6 separate regions of the Homo sapiens genome follow, and all the other regions are reported to be linked to region 3. Evidence: microRNA targets listed by miRTarBase, many of them from high-throughput screens and not tested one by one. Region 3 holds a microRNA gene; each other region holds the end of a gene's coding sequence.

The links. Region 3 holds the annotated microRNA hsa-miR-4423-5p (AGUUGCCUUUUUGUUCCCAUGC, at 1,388-1,409, opposite strand). A microRNA usually pairs through its seed, bases 2 to 8, with sites in the 3' UTR of a target mRNA and lowers its output. Matches are read on the target gene's strand: a 7mer-m8 pairs with bases 2 to 8, a 7mer-A1 pairs with bases 2 to 7 and ends in A, and an 8mer does both.
Region 1: miRTarBase lists LEPROTL1 as a target of hsa-miR-4423-5p. The part of its 3' UTR that is shown has no 7-base or 8-base seed match.
Region 2: the mRNA of WDR82 is a reported target of hsa-miR-4423-5p. Seed matches in the 3' UTR shown: 8mer at 2,033-2,040 and 7mer-A1 at 2,810-2,816.
Region 4: the mRNA of MED29 is a reported target of hsa-miR-4423-5p. The part of its 3' UTR that is shown has no 7-base or 8-base seed match.
Region 5: miRTarBase lists CD300E as a target of hsa-miR-4423-5p. Seed matches in the 3' UTR shown: 7mer-A1 at 1,067-1,073.
Region 6: the mRNA of TAS2R5 is a reported target of hsa-miR-4423-5p. The part of its 3' UTR that is shown has no 7-base or 8-base seed match.

The regions. Positions count from the first base shown.
Region 1 is chr8:30,105,285-30,109,373 of GRCh38, reverse strand. LEPROTL1 (leptin receptor overlapping transcript like 1) reads right to left here. Exons shown (of 4, transcript NM_015344.3): 4 at 850-3,628. The coding sequence ends at 3,512. Among named protein-coding and RNA genes, the nearest start is that of LEPROTL1, 12 kb to the right of the region's middle.
Region 2 is chr3:52,253,705-52,257,793 of GRCh38, reverse strand. It overlaps WDR82 (WD repeat domain 82), which reads left to right. Exons shown (of 9, transcript NM_025222.4): 9 at 275-3,360. The coding sequence ends at 304. Among named protein-coding and RNA genes, the nearest start is that of PPM1M, 10 kb to the right of the region's middle. RefSeq lists an enhancer at 4,044-4,089.
Region 3 is chr1:85,131,136-85,135,214 of GRCh38, reverse strand. It overlaps MIR4423 (microRNA 4423), which reads right to left and starts at 1,421; the gene lies at 1,342-1,421. DNAI3 (dynein axonemal intermediate chain 3) reads right to left here. Exons shown (of 23, transcript NM_145172.5): 23 at 2,077-2,360. The coding sequence ends at 2,217.
Region 4 is chr19:39,397,355-39,401,433 of GRCh38, forward strand. MED29 (mediator complex subunit 29) reads left to right here. Exons shown (of 4, transcript NM_017592.4): 4 at 103-3,287. The coding sequence ends at 345. Among named protein-coding and RNA genes, the nearest start is that of ZFP36, 7.5 kb to the right of the region's middle. RefSeq lists an enhancer at 967-1,016.
Region 5 is chr17:74,609,279-74,613,367 of GRCh38, reverse strand. CD300E (CD300e molecule) reads left to right here. Exons shown (of 4, transcript NM_181449.3): 4 at 595-3,483. The coding sequence ends at 715. All of the region lies in intron 3 of LOC101928343 (a long non-coding RNA gene), which reads right to left. Among named protein-coding and RNA genes, the nearest start is that of CD300E, 12 kb to the left of the region's middle.
Region 6 is chr7:141,790,737-141,794,825 of GRCh38, forward strand. TAS2R5 (taste 2 receptor member 5) reads left to right here. Exons shown (of 1, transcript NM_018980.3): 1 at 1-631. The coding sequence ends at 525. Among named protein-coding and RNA genes, the nearest start is that of TAS2R5, 2.6 kb to the left of the region's middle.

The sequences.
Region 1 (4,089 bases), not on the chromosome of region 3:
TTCCTTGAGAATGCCATAAAATGAACAGACCTGTAATAAAATCAGAGCTCCTAATCTTCACTGAAAGAAAGGGCAATACAAGCTTATAGAGAAGAAATACGAATTTCAATTTCCCACCAATCGTATACATCATAAAGCATCCTGGGATCTAAAACACACATACCACTTAACAATAACGTTGTGTTGCTTGTTAACTTTGGTGCATTGATTAAAAGTTATCTGAAACTTAAAAATCTAGTCACATTCAATATAAATATCCTAGACTTTAGAAATCTGGATTATTTTGGCCAAAGTGTGGTGGCTCACGCCTGTAATCCCAGCACTTTTTTTCGGGGCGGGGGGGTGGTTTGAGGGGGGTTGTGGTGGTGATGGCTTGAGGCCAGGAGTTTGAGACCAGCGTGGCCAACATGGCAAAACCCCATCTCTACAAAAAATACGAAAATTAGCCAGGCGTGGTGGTGCAGGCCTATAATCCCAGCTACTCAGAAGGCTGAGCGGCAGGGCGATAACTTGAGGCCAGGAGTTTGAGACCAGTGTGGCCAGCATGGCAAAACCATGTTTCTACAAGAAATACAAAAATTAGCCAGGTGTGGTGACCTATGCCTGTAATCCCAGCTACGTAGGAGGCTGAGGTATGAGAATCGCTTGAACCTAGCAGTTGCAGTGAGCCAAGATCGTACCACTGCACTCCAGCCTGGGCACAAAGCAAGTCTCAAAAAAAAAAAAAAAATCTGTATTGACAATGTCCCCAAAATCATATTAGAGCAGACATTTAGTGTCCACAGCCTAAACTTTTTAAAGTATATGATAAGATTATAATTAGGACAATTTGGGACACGACTAATATTTGAAAATACAGAACAGTACTTTTCTCTCTTCACAGTGTACCAAACAGAAATATTTTTTGTTTAAAATGTTTGCAAAAAGTAACATGCTATAATAATGAGTGGTAATAAATACATAATAAGAAGTCATAAAAATGTTCTGAAAATTTAAGAAGTAGGACCTTGCCTTTAGATCAGTAGTAGTCTTAAATGTCAACAAAACCTTTTATGACTATTTTTGTAAAAGATTTTGTAAAAATTCTACTTCCCAGATTACCAATCCTTTTACTACAGCTCAAAATTACAGGGCTGCATTGTAATATCTGTAACTATGGTTTCCATTTTATTTTGGAATGGAAACTTCTGCAACTCTAACATTACACCAATGTCATCTTGCTTTACATCACCTTATTAGAATGTTAATGCACTTCAGAATGAAAGTGTGCCATATATTTTCATTTCAAAAACACCCACAAACTAAAATAGATATTTAAAATCTTTATTGTTTCATCATCAAAAGTTTTCTTTCCATAGAAGAATGGTAATATTGTATCAGTGCATATTCTATGGAAAATTCATATCTCAAGTAACTAGCCTAGAAATCAGAGACAGCACTATGTCAAGCTAGTATACAAGGTCAAAGACACAATGCTGCCAATGCAGTTAGTATATAGAAATAATACGCAGCTGTTAGAAAAAGTCTGTGGCCAAGTGGATAAAACAGTAGCAGTGCACTGCACTGACATCCAGAACAGAAAATAGGGAAGGACCAGAGAATGCACTTCCTGCAAAAAAAAGTCCAGTAGATCACAAGCACAAAGAGTTCCCAACTGTCTCACCAGCTCTCTAACTCATGTGTACCTGCACCTTCCTCTTGAAATCTGAACATTATAATACCACAAGCCACTTTCAGCCTCCAGTGGGAAGGCTCCAGCCACACGCCGATATTTCGTCCTGCTTCCCGTCATCTCATATCTAAAAGTCATGGCTTAAGTTAGGCAATAAAACCTGTGGCTTTAGGCATCTTTAGTAAAAAAGCTGAACAAATCCCAAATTTATTCCCATTTTCTTGAGAAATAAACTTCATAAAACAACAGACAGCTGTCATGATTACTGAGTTTTGGCTGATGGCGAAATAATTTTTATGTAAGTATACTGAATAAACATACAAACAAATATCCTTAACAAAATACTGTCAGACCAACTTGAATGTTTTTATAACCCACTCCTGAAAAAAGTCCTGATAATTATTAGATGTAAACGACCACTATAAATTGATCATGCCTGGTTACTGGGAATTTTTTGGTCAGGTATGTTTCTGAAGCTGCTATATAGCTGGACTTGGCTACTTTGCATTAACTCACACAACAAATGCCTTTTATAAGGAAACAGCAGATCTATCATGATGAACTCAAAATCAAAACAGTTCAGAGGTATACAGGAAACTTGTCTTAAAAATACTTTTAAATTACATATGATATAACCTTAGAGAATAAGAACTACTATTACCATGGTCTAAATCTTAAACTGTTAATGCATGAATTATCTGTAAGACTAACAAGTTACTTGTTAATCATGGCAAGGCCTTGCAGGGGAGGGGGCACTCTGAATGTACGGCATAGCAATTATTTTCCAGGTAAGTAAACACTTCTAAGTGTTATTAAACTATATTTGAAAAGTTATTTTATGTAATATATACAACATACCAAATAAGTCAAAAGGAGGAAGCAGAGGAAGGTTTTCTGGCATATATGATGCAAACATACAACTGTCCCTCATCAGTAGTGGTTCCATGTATGTCCATTTTAACAGGGTAAAACATGAAAGGTTGATAGGAGATCACAAATTTCACTTATAAATAGAAACAGGATTCAAAAACTGGAATTTCAATGTCATTTCTTCCCACATTGCAACTCACTCTAACAATAATAAACATAAATAAAAACCTTATCTCAAAAATGTTTTTACACCCTTACCTTAAAGTTTAACATAAATTCTTCTAACAATTGAGAAGAAAAGCACTCCTCTGTAGCAATTCCATAAAATAATTTTCAATCCACAAAACATCTGTCTACCAGTAAAACCAACAACCCTTAACGGAGGGCATGGGCATTAACACTTGGCCCCTCTGAGGTATAAATGCAGCTATATTTGCACTGAGTATACAGTCTATAACGTATGCCAACCGTCTGTATGTCTGCATAACATTGGGAGTGATGTCATCCTGACTGACTGAAAACTTATTTTTATAATTTTTTGTAATAATGGAGGCTAAATAATTTTAAGAGAAAAGATGTACTTGACCAGTAATAGAGCCGGCGGAATTCTGAATTCCTAACCAATGCAAATGATTACATTAAAAAAGTGTTTAACATTGCATATTGATTCCAAAAAAAATCAACCTAACAGGAAAAACACATAAATATTTAAATTCAGCAGGACACCACAAAAAGCATACTATAGATAAGTGTGAAATCAGTCAAGCTTTTCCAAAAGAGAAAATCCTTTTAATCCTTCAGCAAGTCTCTGTGAAAATAGTATGCTTACAATAAAAGTGAGAAGGGAGCACCTAAAATACCCCCAAGAGGCTTGCTATACCATTCAGCATTAACTGCCCCATCTCCTGTGTGCGTGAATGGCCAACAAATGACAGGAAGTCCATTTGACAATAGTTCAGTAATTTCTTTTCACCACTGCTGCCAGCTGAAGTCGTCATTGCTTCCAAAGACCAAGAAAAAGCCTAGTATAGTTGCAAAGATGACTGTGTTTCCTGTGAGAACAAGTGCACAAGCTCCCCACTCAATCTATGGAAATAAGATACACTCAGTCAACAGGCATGAAAAACGAAAGGAAAATAAAAAAAAAAATCAAGGCTCTAGTTGTATCCCAATTATGATCTAAAAGAAGCATGCCTTGTAACAATAATTGTCACAGTGCTGAACACATACTTATAAATATATATAGTATAAATATATATAGTAAAAAAATATATAGTATAAATATATATAAATATATACAGTATAAATATATTTATAGTATAAAAGTGGTACTTTTATACTAGTATTTTCATTTACCTTTGGTTCCTTTAAAAAGAAAGTCATGAAATGACCATTCAAAAACAAGCTTGACTTCTGGGCTATGAAGAAGCAGCATAAAATTCTACAAGTTTCTGTTTATAAAGGAATGTGCTTACTCTTCCTTAATATAAAAATCTATCTAGAGTAGATTAAATTTTAGCATATCACAGATGGAAACACACCCATGT
Region 2 (4,089 bases), not on the chromosome of region 3:
TCCTTTTTTTCCCTTCCTTTAAAAAAAAGGGGGCGGGGGGTCTGCTTTGGTGGAAGGTGGACAGTGATTATTGGAGAAAAACAGAACCATTTTACTTTCACATAGAGGAAAGAGTGTTTCTGTCTCCTTAGAGCATCGGGGTTGGTTGGTTAGGAGAGAGGGCTACCAGAGCCACTGGGGTTGGGCACATTTTTGCTGTGGGGTGGGATGTGAAGAACCGTTGGCAGTGAGGAGATGCTTGGCTTTTTAAAGTTGATTTATGTTCTCCTTCTAGGCCTTTTGGTTGCCCACCATTGATGACTGACCCTGTTGCTGCTTGGCTATTTCTGTATAGTGAGGGCGGCCAGCAGGAAGAAACTCAGAGGGAACTGAGATAATAGTGGGATTGGATCATTTGACTGGGCTGGAGAACATCCTTTTACATGGCCTTCCCATGGATGTGCTGTACATCTGCTCAAAAGAAAATAATTACTTTGATGAGCGTCTTCAAAAGGACTCTTGGTGCAACAGACTCAATTGGAACTCAGCTTTTCTAACTGTCACTGCACCAAGCTCTGCTGGAGGAGTGACCAGACTCACGATTTGGTATAGTGGGGCTCTCAAGCATCTTCAATTTGAATGTACATGCTGCTGAGGAGCCGGTGAAGTCATCAGTTCCGCACATCCCTTCTACCCTCCAACTGCATGGGAAGCCAAAGTCCTGGTTTTGAAATGCTTGGGCAGCTCAGCCGCTTGCCCTCACCCTGCATGTCTTGTTACTGGGTCTCCCTGTGTACTTGTGGCATTATCCACAACCATCATGTTTCTTAGGTGCCAAACATTTACAGAAACATTTTCATATATCTTGGGGTCAGAGAAAGGGACAGATACAGAAGGACCTTGCTTGCAGGAAGCCATGCAGTTAGTTTCTGCAGTTAGTCGTGTGAGGCTAGGTGGTTGGGCAGGCCTCGGGCTGTAGGTGTTGGGTGGGAAAAAGACCCAAGGGCCTGAAAGGGAGGGAAAGGGGAGGGTAGCGGGAGGGTAGCAGGTGAGTTCCTAGGGCTGGAAGGTTTAGCAGCAGCCTGGTGCAGTGCCCTGTCATCAAGACAAACCCACGGTCCTCCTGGGTGCCTACCAAGCTTGGTTTGTACAAAAGCAAGGTGGGAGTCTATTTTTGTACATGAGATACATCACACTTACCTGTGGGCCAGTATTGTGAAGTGAGTCTGAGTTGTTTACACTGATGCCTTCCCTGCCCACCACAAATTGTGTACATAGTCTTCAGATGATACCACCCCTTTCCCCAGCTCCCAACCAAGAGCTGGTTCTAGGCCTGTGTTATATGTCATATTTAGCGTTTTTATATATGACCTTTGATTTCTGTTGTTTGTATTTTAGCACAGTGTATGCACCTTCATTTAAATACATCTGTGTGCATACAGATACGCATATATGTGTGTGCGTATGCATATATCTCTCATCTGTAGTTTCCAAGAGTTCAGCTGAAGCAGATGGAGTCCTGCAGCCCAGGAGACACCCTGCATCCCTGCTAATAGTGTTTGCCACAAGTATTAGTGAGTCTTCCTTATTAATATTTTCATTTCAGAAGACTGAAGCAAAGCTGATAGTGTTTGCTGTTTCTTTGGCAGCTAAGTGAGGGTCTTGGGATGACTTGCTGTGTTCCTCAAGCTGCACTTTGGGGCCATCTCTGCAGTATTAGCCCCCTTTTTGCTTGGTGGTACTCTGTCTGTGCCTGTGTGTGTGTGTGATAGTCACTCTTGCATGGCTTCCATGTCTGGTTTGTGGCATTTGGGGATAAGGTGCTGAAGCCAGAGCATTTGCAGTTTGTTTGAGGCCTCGTTGCCAATGATAGATCACTCCTGTTGACCTGGTATGTCTGCTTGCTTGCTGCTTTTCCTTGCTTTCTCTTGGAAGAGGAAAGGACTCTGGTCAGGCCCAGGCTGAGTGAGATGAGCTGCAGCTGGCTCATGGCCTTCTTAGAGCAGAGAGAGGAGTATGTCATTTTACTAAGTTCCTAAACAAACATTTATGCAGGCAACACTCCTTGCAGATCCAGAAACTGAGGCACAATAGGGTTATGACTTGCTCAAGAATATGTAGCTGCTAGGGGGTAAATCAAGGCATCACAATTTCTGTTCAGCGGGCAGGAATAGGCTGTGAATTGCTAGCACTTTTTTTTTTTAAGCAATTACTTTTTGACTTGTTCCTCTGAAAGTGCAAGAGGCGTACACCTTTCCCAAATGTAGACTAGAATCTGCAGGATGCCACCCACTGTATAGTTCTGCTTTCCCAGAGAGGAAGAACTTTTAGAAACCAAATGATCTTAATTGTTATTGCCCACCCCTGGCTTTTCCGGGTAGAAAATTCACAGTAGGAATGATTGTTAAGAGAGAGTGCTTGGAACCATGGGTTAACAGGAAAGGCTACCTAACTTCACATATCTGCAACCAGAGCAGCCACCAAGCATTACTTAGCAGCAGGAAAATGATTGTATTTGAGTTCCTGTGTGTCCAAAACTGAGCACCATGTTCTTTGAAAACATGCCACCTCAAGGCTGGGCGCGGTGGCTCACACCTGTAATCCCAGCACTTTGGGAGGCCGAGGCGGGCGGATCACCGGAGGTCGGGAGTTTGAGACCAGCCTGACCAACATGGAGAAACCCCATCTCTACTAAAAATACAAAATTAGCCGGGCGTGGTGGCATGCGCCTATAATCTCAGCTACTTGGGAGGCTGAGGCAGGAGAATTGCTTGAACCCAGGAGGCGGAGGTTGCGGTGAGTTGAGATCGTGCCATTGCACTCCGGCCTGGGCAACAACAGCAAAACTCCGTCTCAAAAAAAAAAAAAAAAAAATGCCACCTCACAGTCTCTATCGTTGGGCCCTGTGGTTGCAAAGCTGCCTCCTGAATTAAGAAGGAAAGGGAAAAGATATAGCTGGAAGCGAGTGGAAGAGATGCTGAGGGCTGGGGCTGCACAGACGTGCTCAGCAGGGCTACAGGTGCTCAAGCCCTATTGGGGATGGGTGGGGAGTGGGGCAGCGGCGTTTGCCACCTTAAGAATTGGGGCCAAAGCCACTGATGTTTATTTGACAGTGACACTGCACTGGGTACTTAAAGAAATTATTTCCCGTTGTAATTATAATTACTGCTTATTAAGGAAAATATGGGAATTTTAGAAAGAATCAAGTTTGCCACCCAAATGCTACCACTGTTAATCTTTTGGTGTTAAATGTTCCCCCTAGACATTTCTGTGCATAGATTTTTGGTGTGTTTACATAGTCGTTATTCTGTATATACAATTTTATGTCCCTTTTGTACTTAACGTATAAACATTTTTTCCATGTTACAGTCTTAAACAGAATTTTATGGCTGCAGCCTCTTCGATTTGAGTTTCTGTAGCATGGTTTGCCTGGTTCCCAGAGCTGGAGGGAGGCTTGGGTTGTCTCCTGTTAGTTCTGGCTCACACTGCAGCTTGCTGTAATGCTGTGTAGACGGATTGCTGGGCTCCCTGGGACTGCCTCTGACTGCCCCTTGGTAACTAAGATTTATGGGCTGGTGGGAGGAACCCCTAGAACCAGCCTTCAACCCCAGGCTGTAATAGCCATAGAGCCAGCAATGACTGACGGGGCAAGGCAAGCCTGAGCCAGCCTGAATCTTCGGAGACTGTCTGGCACTTACCTCAGGCTGCCTTGCATCCTCTACTGTTTACTCAACCCTTCACCAGATTGACAACCTCTAGTTGGAATATGTTTTGTCCTGCTAGACCCTGGTTTCAGGAAGGCAAGAATACTGGAGTCTCTCTGAGGCCCCAGCACCCAGTCTGGCAGAAGGCAATTGCTTTGGTAACCCATTTGCCTGGAGGCTGCTGCTCTAGCTCAGCATTCTCAGAGCTGTAGAACCTGCTTCCTGCTCTTGCCTCGCCCTCTCTGGACCAGAGAAGAAAACCTTGGGCCTGCCACATTTTCACATTGCTCATGGGACTCTGCAACAGTGGCGGAGGGAACATCCTAGCTTGTGTGTGACAGGCCATGCACAGGCTCTTCTGACACTACGTACGTAGGAAGAGACCCCCTCCTGGCCTGGTGGGAGG
Region 3 (4,079 bases):
AAATAAAATTAGAAAAATCTCTGGAGAAAGTACTGAACAGCAAGCACAGATGCCCAGGGAGAGGAAGATGCCTGGCATGTTTGGTGAACAGGAGGCCAGCATGACTGGGATGGGTGTGATGGAGGGGAGAGGAAGGAGGGATGGGACCAGGTGACAGTGGAAGGCCTGCCTGTACAAGGGCTTGCAGGGCACAGACAGGCATTGGGAACATACTCTGAGTGATCATACTATGAGGTTGAGGAAGGATTCTGGGCAGAAGGATGACAGCATCTGACAGCATCCATTTAAAACTACCATCTGGCTGTGGCTGAAAGTGACTGAAAATGACAACATAGAAACAGGGAGAACAGGAGGCTGCTGCAAAATCCAAGCTGATGATGATGCAGCTTGGACCATGGTGGTAGCAGTGAGGGAGAAGAGAAGCGATCAGGTTTCACATGCATACTGAACGTGTAGTCAACAGGACTTGCTGACAGATTGGATGTGGATTGTGAAAGAAAGGAGATGAAGGATGACCTTAAGGCTTTTGCCCCAAGCAGCATCATGGCTGGGAGGACTGCTGGAGGAATGGTTTTTGAAGGGAAACATCAAGCACTCAATTTTGGACATGTTTAAGTTTGAGATGCCTATTAAACATCCAAGTGGAGATACAAAAGGTCAAATAGATACACATCTCTTGATTTTAGAGAGAAGGCCAGGTCAGGGACAGAGGTAGTATCTAAAGCCTTGAGAGTGGATGCATGCACCTAGAAAGTGAGTGCAGAAAAAAGAAAGAATAAAAGAAGTTCAAGTGTAAGGATGAGCCCTGGGATATTTCAATCATGATGACAATAATATGTGCCAGGCACAGGCCCCTTATCTGCAGGGGCTCATTTGCCCCTTACATAAATGCTGCAAGTTAAGTTCTCTCAACCTGACTTGATGGAAGGGGAATCTGTTTCACAGAGCTGGGTCATCTGTTCAAGGGCACACAGGTGGTTAAGAGCTAAAATCTATCCGACAAAGTTTTCTTTCCTCTAGCAATCTAACTTATAAACCTTGGTATTATCCTTTGTCTTCCCTTCCCCATCCAACCAGCCTTTGATTTCTATCTTCACATTAAGCTTTAGTACAGGGCATCCTAATCCTTTGCCCTGAACAATTCCTCCTGCCTCCTAATAGGATTTCTTGCCATGAGACTCTCCCCTGCTCTAGTTCATTCCTTGTTTCCTAAAAATAAAGCTGATTGGGTCAACTTCCTGTTTAGACCTTCCATTCATTCCCCATAAATTCTAATCCAGCTCCTTAGCTTGGTAAACAGGAGCCTTCACAATCTGGCTCCAAGCTCTTTTGTGTCTCAGTTTCACATACTGTTGTTGCTTTTTGGTGCCTATGCTAGGCTTAAACAGCATGGGAACAAAAAGGCAACTGCAGTACATGATGTCAGGCACCTGATGGTGTGAGCTGTGTCTTGTTCCACATCTCAGGGGAAAGCTTTCTGCTTGTCACCATGAAGTACCATGTTTGGTGTAGTATTGTTTTACACGCCCTTCATCACATTACAGGAATTCTTTCTGTAGATGCCAAGAATGTATCATTATTATCATGAATTGATGTCAACTTTTATGAAATGTTTTTCTGCATCGACTTGGCATCATAATTTCTCTCTTTTGATTAATCACTGATTTATTTTCTACTCTTAAATTAACCTTATCTTCCTTGGATAAACCCAACTTTGTCTTCATGTGTTAACCTCTTTAAAATATATATATATATATATTTCTGGATTTGATTTGCTAATATTTTGTTTAGCACATGGCCCTACAGTTTGTACAGTGGCCAAGGGGAAGCACTTTTTTTGGAAAGGTGGCCAAAAGCAAGCTGATAAGTAGGAGCAGTTTGATTTCCCCTTCTGCCTGGAATGAGGGCCTCTGTGTGGACAGCAAGGATTGGGATGGAAGGGACATCCAAAGTTCTCTATTATTATAGGAAAATACAAATTTTGTTATTGAAAACATTCATTAAAAAAGAACACTTTCATATTCAGTACAAAATTTGGTACATACATGGTACAAAAACTGAAATAGATCTCATTGCTAAAATTCAAAAGTTTTAATAGCAGGGAAATAAAAGTCTATAAATGAGCCTATATATATATATGTTCAGCATGCCAGTTCACCTGACATAAAAATAAATAGAGGGAAGAAGTCCCCAAAACACCCCTTCAGGAAGCTTTTTTACATCACCTCCATGTATGACCCCTTCTCTGTGACTTTGATTAGGCCAAGGTTGATAAGAACAGTCTTTTCCAGTTCCAGATAACTCTCATAGTCCATTTTTAATTCAGCCTGCATTTGTTCTTTTGACTTCTGATATGTTTTCTGGGGGGGGAAGAAAAACAAGACATCCCTATAAAACACTGATATCTAAAAATACCAAAGGATGAGAAGGGGCTGTTTGTGAATAGTTGACCTGGCTGCTGTTTTCTGGAAAGGGCTGGATGGAGGGCAGGAAGGCAGGAGGGCAGGTGGGCAGGAGGCAGTCAGATGTGCTGGGAAAGGAGGGAGTGGGGGGAAACATGGTCCCCAACCACTGTCTCTCAAAAAAAAGTCCCTTTTTCCGGCCTTCTTCCCTATAACTCTTGTTTCCCTTATGTAGACTGGAGGGTGACTAATAGCCTAGAGGTTGCAGAATTCTTTTGAAATCCCCCTCTTCTGAGTCCATATGGATGGCATAGCTTGTGGATCACACGGCAATGACTACTGTCCCAGGCTGAGTCTCCAGCTGAAATTCTGGTTAGGAAAATTCCCATTTCATATGCAACTAGAGCAGTGATTATTATTGTCCATTGAGGAGTGAGCTGTTTCCAGATTTTATGTTTGCAAAGAGACAGGTGCATGATTTTCCTGAAATCTGTGTTGAACTGTACAGCCTCAACCTGGCACCTGGTGAGCACTCACACAGGCCAGCCTTGCTGGACGAACATGTGAACACTTTCTATGTGCCAGTTATTGGCTAAGTGCTGTAAATATTTTAACTCATTTAAGCTCCATTGCAATCTTCTGAGGTTGTTACTGTTGCCATTTCCCCCTTTATCAGCCGTTGCTTAGAAGGAGACATTTCTGACTAACATTAGTTGTTTTTCCTTAGTGACTTTTTTTATGTTCTCAATGTAACAGAGGAACCCTTTCAAATTCATTCACATACCCACAATCTATTCATAGTTGCAGAGAAAATTTGAGAAGTGGTGGCTTTACTTAAAAGAGGGCACCATATCAAATGGAAATAAAGTTACAAGAAGTTGGGAACGTTTTGGAAATTGAAAAGTATAATACAATTTAAGATATTATTATTATAATATTCAGGTGTTTAAAAAGTATTTCACATGCAAATTATTTTTGGATTATCCACAATTCTACTCGCTCCCACTGATGTAGATAATTAGGAGCTGTTGCTATGGTATTTAAACACTCATAATAATCGTGGATAATTGCTGGGGAAGGGGAAGGGTGGCAGATTCTCTCCCACAATAGAATCTCAACAAATCAACATTTGTTAAGTGCAAAAGAACAAAACTAAGATCAATTTGTTTGTAGCAGTGGAATGCAATGAAAGTTTAATTAATTGGCATTCTTTTACACTTTGTCACCAAACATGTTTTGAAATGAGATCCTCTGCTTTTATTGCACTAATTAGTATTTATCAATGAGTGATAATGTTAATTTATTTGCTAATGCAGCACATTACAATATTTCCACATGCTAATGCTTTATTTTTTTTTTTTTTTTTTTGAGATGGAGTTTCGCTCTTGTTGCCCAGGATGGAGTGCAATGGCACAATCTCGGCTCACCATAACCTCCGCCTCCCAGGTTCAAGTGATTCTCCTGCCTCAGCCTCCCGAGTAGCTGGGATTACAGGTATGTGCCACCATGCCCGGCTTATTTTGTATTTTTAGTAGAGACAGGGTTTCTCCATGTGGGTCAAGCTGGTCTCGAACTCCTGACCTCGTGATCTGCCTGCCTCAGCCTCTCAAAGTGCTGGGATTACAGGTGTGAGCCACGGCGCCCAGTGCCACATGCTAATGCTTTTGAGACTGAAGG
Region 4 (4,079 bases), not on the chromosome of region 3:
GGAAATCCAGAGGCCAAGCCGACAACCCCCAGCTGGCCCTTGGGGTGGGGTAGAATGACCTCGGGTGGAGCTGATGCTGTCCCCTTGCCTGCCTGTCCACAGCGCCTGGCGCATGAGTGCCTGTCACAGAGTTGTGACAGTGCCAAGCACTCTCCAACGTTGGTGCCCACAGCCACCAAGCCCGACGCAGTGCAGCCTGACAGCCTCCCCTACCCACAGTACCTGGCGGTCATCAAAGCCCAGATTTCCTGTGCCAAGGACATTCACACCGCCCTGCTGGACTGTGCCAACAAGGTCACGGGCAAGACACCCGCACCACCTGCTGGCCCTGGGGGCACTCTGTGAAGTGGGGGACAGGGAGTGGGGCAGGCAGTGGTTGGTGGGTGGTGTGCAAAGGGAATGAAGAGCGTCCTGGGCCTAAACACAGCAGCCTCCTCTCTTCCTGCCTGAGCACCGCAGCGGGAGCCAGCAGGGGGCAGCAGAGGCCAACAGGGAGCTCGCAGGCCGGGCCCCTGCGTCCCTGCCCCTTCTTCCTGCTCCCCCTCCTAGCCTAGGGTAGACTTTGAACTGTGTGTGTTGATGACTTCTCTGTTCCACAGGCCCTCCCCCATTCTTGCCTGGGTGTGGAGCCCTGGCTGTCCCCTCTCCCTCAGTCCTTCCTGACTGTCTCCAGCTGGGAGGTGGTCTCTGTGTGCCACTCCTCTGTGTCTCTATTACAGTTGTGTCTCTCTCATCCTGTCTCTTTTTCCCTTGTTTCTCTGTTCCTGTTAATGTGTTTCTCCCCATGGTCCTATTTCTCTCACTCTGACCTCTCTCTCTTAGTCCCCTTTAGCTGTCTTCTATCCCCAGCTCCTAACTGGGACTCTGTGTCTATGCAGGGGGCCAGCACCCCTGGGTTATCTGGGGCTAAGGGAAGGGACTTCATTTCCAGGGGCCACAGCCAAGCCCAGAGTCCCCCAGCGGCTCGCATGTCAGCCCAGACCCCAGGGTCCTTGGCCTAGGAGAGGAGCAGTGGAGGGGCCCAGGCTCTGAGCTCCACAGGTCTGAGCAGGGAGCAACTCAGGCCCCCACCCAAGCCTGCGTCAGCGGAACTTGAGTGAGGGGCGTTGTGCAATTTGTGGCAAGGCTGGCCCAGCTGGATGCCTGGGTCCCAGTATTTTTAGCCCCAAAGGAGAAGTGAAAAGGCCCCAGCCGGGGTGAATCATCAGTCCTGGGGAAGAACCCAGGCGCCTGAGCCCCAGCTCCGGGAAGCAGGCACTGGGGAGGGGGCTTCAAGGAGGGAGTGCCCCCTCAGACTCCCTGCTTCCCTGGAAGCTTCAGGAAGCTCAGCCTCAGCCTTCAGGCCTGAGCAAGTGCAGGGCGGAGCTACCAGCCCAGGCTCAGATGTTGGGGTGTGAAAGCCTCAAGTGACTCAGCCTGGTTGGAGAACTGCCCCACCCAGTATCTTCTGTGCCATGGTTCCCACATTCGCACTCCATGGCCTCCTGTCCTGGACCCCACGTCTGCAAGGAAACCCTAGGACCATGGATACCTCTGTGATTCACGCTGAGCCCAAGTCCCCACACTGGAAAACTGGGAAATGGCCAGCTGTGTGTCCCAGGAAATTCCTCCCCTTATTCTTCCTTGAAGTGCCCGAGCATGTAGGGCAAGAAGGAAGGCTGAAGCGCTGTCCCTAGGAGGAATTTCTCCTTCAGGGGAGCCTCAGTTTTGCCCATTTATCTAATTGAATCAGTTTTTTACCCAATCCCCCGATTTTGTAGGATAATCTCCCTTATCTAAAGTCAACTGATTATGGACTTTAATCACATCTACAAAACACTTCCATGGCGACAGCTAGATGAGTGTTTGAATAACTGGGACTGTAGCCCGTCCAAGTTGACACATAAAACTGACCATCGGGCCGGGGGCGGTGGCTCACGCCTGTAATCCCAACACTTTGGGAGCCCGAGGCGGGCGGATCACAAGGTCAGGAGTTCGAGACCAGCCTGGCCAACACGGTGAAACCCCGACTCTACTAAAAATACAAAAAATTAGCCGGGTGTGGTGGCACACACCTGTAGTCCCAGCTACTCGGGAGGCTGAGGCAGGAGAATCGTTTGAACCTGGGAGGCAGAGGTTGCAGTGAGCCAAGATCACACTATTGCACTCCAGCCTGGGCGACAGGGCAAGACTCTGTCTCAAAAAAAATAAAAAACTGACCATCTAGTCCTTGTCATCTGGGCACCCTCACACATCTCCTTAACCACACTTAATCTCCAAATAAGTACGATAACATAGTCATAGTCCCACCCAACATGATGCAGTTATCTTGCATACAACTGAAGACAACTAACCCTTTCCCCAACAGAGCCCACCAGCAGTGGTGGAGATGTCGGTCCATGAGCGCACACACAAGACTGAGGGACTGTCGGCCCTCCCAGGTGGTGTCAACACAACATCACACACAGGTGGGGGGGCCTGATAGCCCAGCACCCATGATACAGGGCCTACCAATGCTTAAAACCACACCCAGGGAGCCCACAGAGGCACTCAGTGGGTGGTGGGGTGATGGATACACATCTATCAGGCACAGGGCGGAGGTGGGCACCACTGAGTTGCACTCAGCAAACACATTGGGTATCTTGTGCCCAAGGCCTGTATTTGTGGAGCTGATGTTCTAGTGAGAGACAGTAAATGTGACAAAAGTAAAATATATCAGATGGTGAGAAAACAGAAAAATGAGATCAGAAGTGGAGATGTTGGGGCCAGGCACAGTGGCCCAGGCCTGTAATCCCATCACTTTGGGAGGTGCAGGCAGGCAGATGGCTTGAGCCCAGGAATTCAAGACCAGTCCGAGCAACATAGCAAAAGCCCTTATCTGCAAAAAATTCAAAAATTAGCCAGGTGTGGTGGTGCGTGCCCAGGTTCCCAGGTACTCGGAGGCTGAGAGGTGGGAGGATGCCTTGAGCTTGAGAGGTTGAAGCTGCAGTGAGCTGTGATCGCACCACTGCACTCCAGCTTGGTTCATGGAGACCCTGTTTTTTTAAAAAAAGAAGTGGAGGTGTTTACACCAGCAAAATACTCATTTTTTAAGTGTAATTAAGTTGAAGATCAAAAAATGGAAATGTATAATTAAATCATACTTAGCAAATCTAACACATGAAATGTAACATCTGCATATGGAGAATCGTGTTACTTTATTGAAAAACATTAAAAGTTTGAGAACTTAAGTTGGATTGTGGTTTCGTGAGCATTCATTATGGTTTATATATGTTCCATGTATTTATTATTAAATAGATGACAAGGGTTTTCTTATTCTTGTTTATATATGTTTGAGACCAGTCTCACTCTGTCGCCCAGGCTGGAGTGCAGTGACGCCATCTCGGCTCACTGCAACCTCCGCCTCCTGGGTTCACGTGATTCTGCTGCCTCAGCCTCCCAACTAGCTGGGATTACAGGCGTGCATCACCACACCTGGCTAATTTTTGTATTTTTAGTAGAGACGGGGTTTCACCATGTTGGCCAGGCTGGTCTTGAGCTTCTGACCTCAAGTGATCTGCCCGCCTCGGTCTCCCAAAGTGCTGGGATTACAGGCACAGGCACGAGCCACTGCAGTGGGCCTTTTAATTTTTGTTTTAATCCTTGACAGAGGTCAAGGAAGGCCTCACTGAGAAGGCGATATTAGAGCAGCCCCGAAGGAGAGGGAATGAGCTTGGGGACATCCACACATCCAGGCAAGAGTGCTCCAGACAGAGGGAACTGCAAGTGCCAGGGACCTGGGACAGGAATGTGCTGGGATTTATGGAACACATAAAAAGGAGGCTTGGGCACAATGAGGGAGCAGGGATAGGAGAGGAAATCCAGACAGGTCACAGAGGGCCTTGGTGAGGACTTGGGTTTGCTAGGTAACTAAACCCAGAGGGAGACTACACAGTCTGGTGCACACTGCATGCTCCAGGGACGGGGTGTACGTGAGGTGCACAGCCACCACAAAACAGACCGTGGGGACTCCAGCACACAGCATGTCTGCCCCACTGCAGAGCTAACCCACCATCCTACAATCATGGTGCCCCCAGGGACCCCATCCCATTGACAGTCCC
Region 5 (4,089 bases), not on the chromosome of region 3:
CAGTTTGGGAGGCCGAGGCGGTGGATCACTTGAGTCCAGGAGATTGAGACCAGCCTGGGCAACATGGTGAAACCCTGTCTCTACTACGAAATACAAAATTAGCCAGGTGTGGTGGTGCGCCTGTAGTCCCAGCTACTCAGGAGGCTGAGGTGGGAGAATCACTTGAGCCCAGGAAGTCAAGGCTGCAGTGAGCCATGATTGCACCACTGCACTCCAGCCTGGGTGACAGAGTGAGACTCTGTCTCAGAAAATAAAAAAAGCGAGAGTGGGGACTGGTTTTAAGAAGTCAGTTGATAAAGTGGAGGCTGTGAGTGGGACAGGGACAGAGAGGGTGCTGTGGAGCGCACTCCTGGAAGTGGGTCCCTCTTCTGTCTTCACTCCATCACCTCTCCTTGATGAGACCCCCCGGGCAGTCCTTGATGGAGGGAGAAGGAGGGATGGGGGCCACAGAAGGGGCTGCCCTGGCATAGGTCCTTTCCCTGGCTGCTCCTGGGTTATTTGGGCTCCAGAGTCAGAGCATGGGGAGAGGTGGGGAGAGAAGGGTCCTGGGGGTTCTCCCGGGGAAGTGACTCATTTTCACCGTGTCCACCACAGGTTCCGGCTCAGCAGCCCTCACTTCCTGCTCGTGGTCCTTCTGAAGCTGCCCCTGCTCCTGAGCATGCTGGGTGCTGTCTTCTGGGTGAACAGGCCTCAGTGGGCTCCTCCTGGAAGATAGAGCCAGGCTGACCCGAAGCCCTGCAGAGCCCCATCCCCAGGAGTGCCCCGTGCAGGGAGTCAACCTTTCAGACTGGATGCGAGAGACCTGTGGACTCTGGAGGGATTTATTGTTCCTGTGCCTCAAAGGAGGGTCCTGGCTCTTAGAGGACACTCCTCTGGAGTCCTCAATGTGCAGCTTGGGGGTCCTCCTTTCTCCTCCCCAGTCCCCTGCCTCCCTGCCCTCATGCCCACTTCCCAAGGGCAAGAATTCCCTGGAAGTTGGCCGGGCACCATAGCGAGTGCCTATAATCCCAGCTCAGGAGGCTGAGGCAGGAGGATCGGCTGAACGTAAGAGTTCCAGGCCAGCCTGGGCAACATAGAGAGCCCTGTCTCAGAGAGAGAGAGAGAGAGAGAGAGAGAGAGACAGAGAGAGAGAGAGAGAGAGAGCGAGAGAGAGAGAGAGAGAGAGAAAAGGACGGAGGAAGGGAGGGAAAAAATTTTCTGGAGGAGCCTGGCCCTTCATTCTTCTTGGCACAAATGCTTCTCAGGCCAGTTTCCCCCAGGGCAATAACTACCTCCTTCCTGCAGACAGGAGTCTCCCTGAGGACACACCCCTCACAGCCCCAGCCTTTAGGCTCACAGAGCTCCATCTCTTCTCTGGGACAACCCCAAGGGAGCTTGGTCCCGGCAGAGCTTGCTCATGCAGTTGCCCAGTGTCCCACATGCTCAGGGCTCCTCTCGTCTTCTGACGCCCCTTGGGTCTCCCTGGCTTTAAGGCCCCTTCTCTCCCTGTAACCAGGCAGTGTGTGGCTGGGCTCAGAACATCTCTGCCTGGGTGGGCCGTGGATGAGCTGCTCCAGGTTAAAGTTCTGGGGCGAGTTGAAACAGTAAAGGGAGAAGGAGCTGGTGGGTGCCCCTGATATCACTCCTGGAATTCCCCCACCTGGAGGTGTCCAATGCACAAGGTCAACAGAGTCAGTTCTGTCCACTTTAGAAGTCTGGCTGAGACCACCTGTTAGCAATTAACCTTTTCCACAGGCAGAGCAGATATCGTTTTTCAAAGACAGGATGGAGGGCACAGAGGTGAAGGATACTTGTCCACACTTGAAGTGCACAGTGCTATCACCACTACTGGTGACCCCTGGCTCGGGAATGAGCTCAGTTGGTTTTCTGAATGTTTGTCAATTACTCTGTTTCCCTAAAGTTTGTGGGGAGGACTCCCACAGTCTGCCACAAGCAAGCATCACCATCTCCACTTGCTACCTACATCTGGACCAGTGCTCCCCCTCTGCCCCCAGGCCTGAGCTCATCCTGAGCTAGTGATGCCAGTGTCCAGAGCACATGGAGTGACCCTCTGAGTGCCGAGTGCTTAGGCAGAGCTGCCGTGCTCTGAACTTGAGCTCTGGTGGGGCTCCCAGCTCCATCATGCATGGTGACTAGGGGAAAGATGGGGCTGGCCCAGGACTCATGCTGAAAGAGAAATTCAATCTAACAAGGCCCATATTAATTATATTAACCCGGGAAATATGATGATGAGCAAGAAAGGAGCTTATGATTCATTTTATGAGAAGGATAAGCTCCCAAGTCATTACAGCATAGGAAGAACTCTAGAGCCACAAGAGATGCTTCCTGATGTCAGGGGGTTGGTGAGGAGAATATCATGCCAAGCTGGCCAGGTCAGGGAAAGAAGGTGACATTCATGTTGATGTTGAAGGAGGTATAGGATTTCAGCGGAGCAGGGATGGAGCAACAGGGAGAGAGAGAGGACAGAGAAACAGCATAAGTGAAAGCAGAGAGGCGGGAAATAATCTTCATAACAATAGTCACTTATAGAAGACCTATCAGCAAATGGACTGTACTGTTCACATACAGATGCTCATGGTAGGATGTGTCTAAGATTCCAATGGAGTGAAATTTTCCTGTGGCAGGCCAGATGGAACTAATCTAGAAGAACTCAGGTGGTGGCAGGTTCAGGAGGCTTAGGACTCAACTCTTACTTAAACTTTGATTAGCTATGGTGGGATGGATTTGAGCAGAACAAGATGGGATTGCAGATGTGCTTTAGGAGGACTTGCCTAGCAGATGTAGCAAAGTCTGAAAGGAAGAATCTGGGAGTCCGGAGTCTTAAGCCTGGAAAACCAGAGGAATCGGGCATCATTGACAGAAGTAGGAAAGTCAAGAGCAGGCTTGGATGATGCAGAGCTTAGTTTTCTGTGTGTTTGGAATCATCAGGCAGAGAGGTCTAGCAGATAGCTAGAGATGTGGGTTAGCAGAGTGTTGAGGGCTGGAGAGGAATGTGTGTAGAGAGATTAACTGGAACCCAGCAAGAAGTGAAAACATGGAGGGAAGAGTTCAGAACCAAGGACAGAGCCCTCGGGGCACCTGCATTTAAAGACAAAGGGTAGGAGGAAGACATTGATCAAGGTGCTGGAGCAGAATCAAACAGGTGGAAGATGAGAAGTCAAGAGCCATGAATGTTTCAAGGAGGAGAGCAGAGCTAGAGAGGTGGAGGAGGACCGGGATTGAGAGGAGGCTATTGAACTTATCATTCACAAGGTCACTAATGAAGTTCAGAAGAGCAGATCAACAGAGCAATGACAGCAGAAGCCAGAAGAGAAGAGTTAAGAAAGAGTAGACAGATGGCAGACAGCAGGTGCAGGAGAAACAAACAGTGGCTTCTCCATGCTTTGAATTTTCCCTTCTCCCTTACTCCCTTTTTTTCCCCTATTCTTCCTTTCTTTTTTCCCTTTATTTACTCATTCATTCAATAAACTTTTATTGTGTGTCTATGGTGCATTGTTCTGGGCATTACAGATAAGGACTTAAACTATGCAGAGTCCCTACTCCTTTAGAAGGGAAGTCTAAGATGTAGACTAACAATAGCGATGCGGTGTGTTAGAATTTGTGTCAGGGTTCTGCACAGTGCTCTGTGGGGGCACAGAAGGGAGGCACTCCCATGAGGGCCAAGCGGAGAAGGAAAATTGAGGGCTTGAGTTATAAAAATAGGGCAGAAGACTGGGGGATGATTGTCCCAGACAATGGTAGGGAAGAGTCATAGAGCATGGTGGATACCAGGACCTTCAGGAGCTACGTTACCATTACCATGTGTGCAGAGTGCATGTGAGGGAGGAGTGAGATATGGGGCTGGAGCCTCAGTCTGAAAGGGCTTCATGGCAGACCAAGAAGTTTGAATTGTGTTCTGGAGGCCATAGGGAGCCCCTGGAGGTTTTAATTTTTGAAACTTTTATTTTGAAATGATTATAGGCTTAACATTGCAAATATAACATAGAGTCCTGTGAATCCTTCATCTAGTGTCTTTCAATGGTGATGTATTATATAACTGTAGGACAAGACCCAAACCAGGAAACCAGCATTGTTACAATACTGTTAGCT
Region 6 (4,089 bases), not on the chromosome of region 3:
AGTCTCTGGTGCCTTCTGGGCTACTTTATAATCAATTTGTTACTTACAGTCCAAATTGGCTTAACATTCTATCATCCTCCCCAAGGAAACAGCAGCATTCGGTATCCCTTTGAAAGCTGGCAGTACCTGTATGCATTTCAGCTCAATTCAGGAAGTTATTTGCCTTTAGTGGTGTTTCTTGTTTCCTCTGGGATGCTGATTGTCTCTTTGTATACACACCACAAGAAGATGAAGGTCCATTCAGCTGGTAGGAGGGATGTCCGGGCCAAGGCTCACATCACTGCGCTGAAGTCCTTGGGCTGCTTCCTCTTACTTCACCTGGTTTATATCATGGCCAGCCCCTTCTCCATCACCTCCAAGACTTATCCTCCTGATCTCACCAGTGTCTTCATCTGGGAGACACTCATGGCAGCCTATCCTTCTCTTCATTCTCTCATATTGATCATGGGGATTCCTAGGGTGAAGCAGACTTGTCAGAAGATCCTGTGGAAGACAGTGTGTGCTCGGAGATGCTGGGGCCCATGATCTGGGAAGAAAAGTGTGGTCAGGACACTCTTGGGACGCTCTTTTGATAGCTCTCTATAAGGGAGCTGCTTTCCATGTCTTTTAAGATTTTCCTTCTTTTACACCAATGTAATGAATGAGCAACAGAAAATACGGATCAAAACCCAATACTATGTCTCTTTTGGCAATGCAAAGTATATTTTTTTAATGTACCACAGAAATCAAGGCTAGGGCTTCATGTTTGGTAAAAGAGGTATTATATTCTCTCTACATATAGCAAATAATTCATATATAAATCGTGTTTTTCCTATTATAAAAAGCAGAGATTAGGAACAATTCTGTCTACATATAGCAAAAATTCATATATAAATTGTGTTTTTCCTAGTATAGAAAACAGAGATTAGGAACAATTATAGTGATCATTAATTTTTATGAAATTTTACCTATACATTAATGTTAGTCATTTTAGATATGCTTTTTAAAAAGTATCAAATAATTTCCCCATTTCTCTGCTGTAATGTATCTAATTATCTAACTGAAAAACAAAACAAAACATCTTTATATTTCTGGAAGTTTCTTTGAGCCCTAGCCTTGGCTTTCAGAATAAAAATCAGGCTCACGCCTGTAATCCCAGCGCTTTGGGAGGCTGAGGCGGGCGGATCACGAGGTCAAGAGATCAAGACCAAATTAGCCGGGCGCGGTGGCGGGCGCCTGTAGTCCCAGCTACTCGGGAGGCTGAGGCAGGAGAATGGCGTGAACCCGGGAAGCGGAGCTTGCAGTGAGCCGAGATTGCGCCACTGCAGTCCGCAGTCCGGCCTGGGCGACAGAGCGGGACTCCGTCTCAAAAAAAAAAAAAAAAAGAGATCAAGACCATCCTGGCTAACATGATTAAACCCCATCTCTACTAAAAATACAAAAAATTAGCCTGGTGTGTTGGCGGGCACCTGTAGTCCCAGCTACTCGGGAGGCTGAGGCGGGAGAATGGCATGAACCCAGGAGGTGGAGATGGCAGTGAGCCGAGACCATGCCACTGCACTCCAGCCTGGGCAACAGAGCGAGATGCCGTCTCAAAAAAAAAAAAAAAAGCAGAATAAAAGTCAGTTGGATGCCATGATCTGTATTAAGCTCCAAGGCCCAGGAACTGAAGTGGGGCAATATGAGAATGAGGGGCACTTGATTCTGCTTAAAAAAAATAGACTGCCTTTGAAGAGGTCACGCTGTCTGCTCTTCAGTCATTTAGCCATTTTGCCTGTCTACTGTGGCCTCACCACAGCCTACAGTCAGAGTTCTAGTGTGCCAGGTCTTTGAGTTGGAGGGAGATCATTTAGAATGCCAGATCCATGGCAGTAGGAACTGTGTCTGTTTTTATTTTCTCCCACGTCTCTGTGACTAGAACACTGCCTATTGCATAATAAACGCTTAATAAATATTTTGTAAATGACTGAATAGCTGTGCTAACTGGTTTTACAATGCCTCCTTTGTATTGTAGGTAGAGAAACTGATGCCCAGAGAGGGGCAGTGGCCTGCCCTGGGTTTCATAGAGAGCCTGTGGCAGTGCTGGGACTAGAGCTGTTTCTTGACTCCTGGTGCAGGGCTCTTTCCTTTACAACATGCTACTTTCCTAATGTCCTTCCCTCCTTGGAACCCCATGCCTCTTTCTACAGACCCTTCTACACAACTTATTCTCTTCCTTCTTTCTAGCCTTCTTTGTTTCAGTTCCAGGGGGATCTGAAATCCAAAGGACAACACTTGGCATTCTTAAATATTTTTTTTTCACTTCCTATGGATCACACTAATCTACTTTCATTAATCTATTCTCTCAAACATATCTTTTTCTTACCTGAATCTGAGAATTGAGGTACATGCTAGGCACATGTGGATATTAGTCATCACACAGGGGGAGATTGGTTCCACTGTCACTGTGAGTTGTGTGAGGTCAAGTACCATATTTTATGTCCTGGGAAGGATCATATTCATTCTTTTTAAATAGAAAGGTGCTTCTGCTTGGTTATATTTTTGTTAGTAGGATGAATTTTCATTATACCATTTCTATTTTTTTTACAGATGTCCTTTGTGACCAATTGTTGTAATAGTGACAATAGTATTTAACATTTGTATTGGGCTTTACATTTTACCAGACAATCTCATATATAGTCCATTATCTCATTTGATTTTAATAGCAACTCTATGCAGTAACCAATTTTATCCCCAATTCACAGGTGACAAAACTCAGGCTGGAGTGATGGTTTGCCCAGGATCATGAACTTGTAAATAATGCAGATGGAGCAGACCCAAATTTTTTGACTCCGAGTCTTGTGCTCTTTCCAGTAAATCCTAAGTATCTCATTGTTCATACTTGTAAGACTTCAAACTAGGATTAGCCTGTGGAACTTCCCTCAAGTTTATGAGTATTTTTACACACATGCAATAAGCAACTAATCTTTCAAATTTGGTATTGATGGGATGCCTGGGTGCTAAGATCCAAAATCACAACAGATCAAAGTTTATGATCTGCTTTTCTTAGTGACAAGGTATGGAATCAACCTAAGTGTCCATCAACACATGAACAGATAAGGAAAATGTAGTGTATGCATGTATGTGTATCTGTTTCATTTTCTACTTTTCTGTACTGTTCAAATTGTTTTTAGCCATGCTCAAATATCACATTTGAACATTTGAACAGATAAAAAAATGTAGTATACATATGTATGTGTATATATGTATACACACACACAATGGAATATTATTCAGCTTTAAAAAAGAAGGAAATCTTGTCATTTGAAAAAATGTGGATGAACCAGGAGGACCATTATGCTAACTGAAATAAGCCACATACAGAAAGACAAATACTGTAAGATCTCACAGATGTGTGGAATTTCAAAAAGCCAAACTCACAGAAGCAGAGTAGGATGGTGGTTGCCAGGGCCTGGGACGTGGGGGAAATAGGGAGATGTTTGGTGTCTGTTAGGAAGAATGAATAAGCTCTGGAGAGCTAATGTACAGCATAGTGACTATAGTTAATAGAACCGTATTATATACTTGAAATTTGTGAAGAGAGTAGATGTTAAATGTTTTCACTAACAACAACAACAAAGATAATTGTGAGGTGGTGGATATATTAACTTGATTGTGGTACTCATTTCACAGTGTATACATATGTCAAAACATCATGTTGCATACTGTAGATATATACCATTTTTGTCAATCATTCCTCAATAAAGCAGGAAAAATTATTGCATTTTCCACATCACCTTTTGGGATTTGATTTCCTTCTTTTTCTGTACACAATTTACCTTATGATGCGTATGAGACTGCTTTGTGTTTTAGCAAAGAAAACAAATGGGAAGGCAAATATATACTCTTGAATTGATTCCTATGTAATTGAATCTTTTATAATTTGCATTCTTAGAGTTGCAGCTGGATCCATGTGTGCGTGTGTGTGTGTGTGTGTGTGTGTGTGTAGATGTTAATGGCCTTACATTTAATTATGTGATATGCTCTGTGGTGGTGTAGCCGAGAGGAGACGTGAAATGTTAAAAATGTGATATGTGAGCATGGCTAAAAACGATTTGAACAGGACAGAAA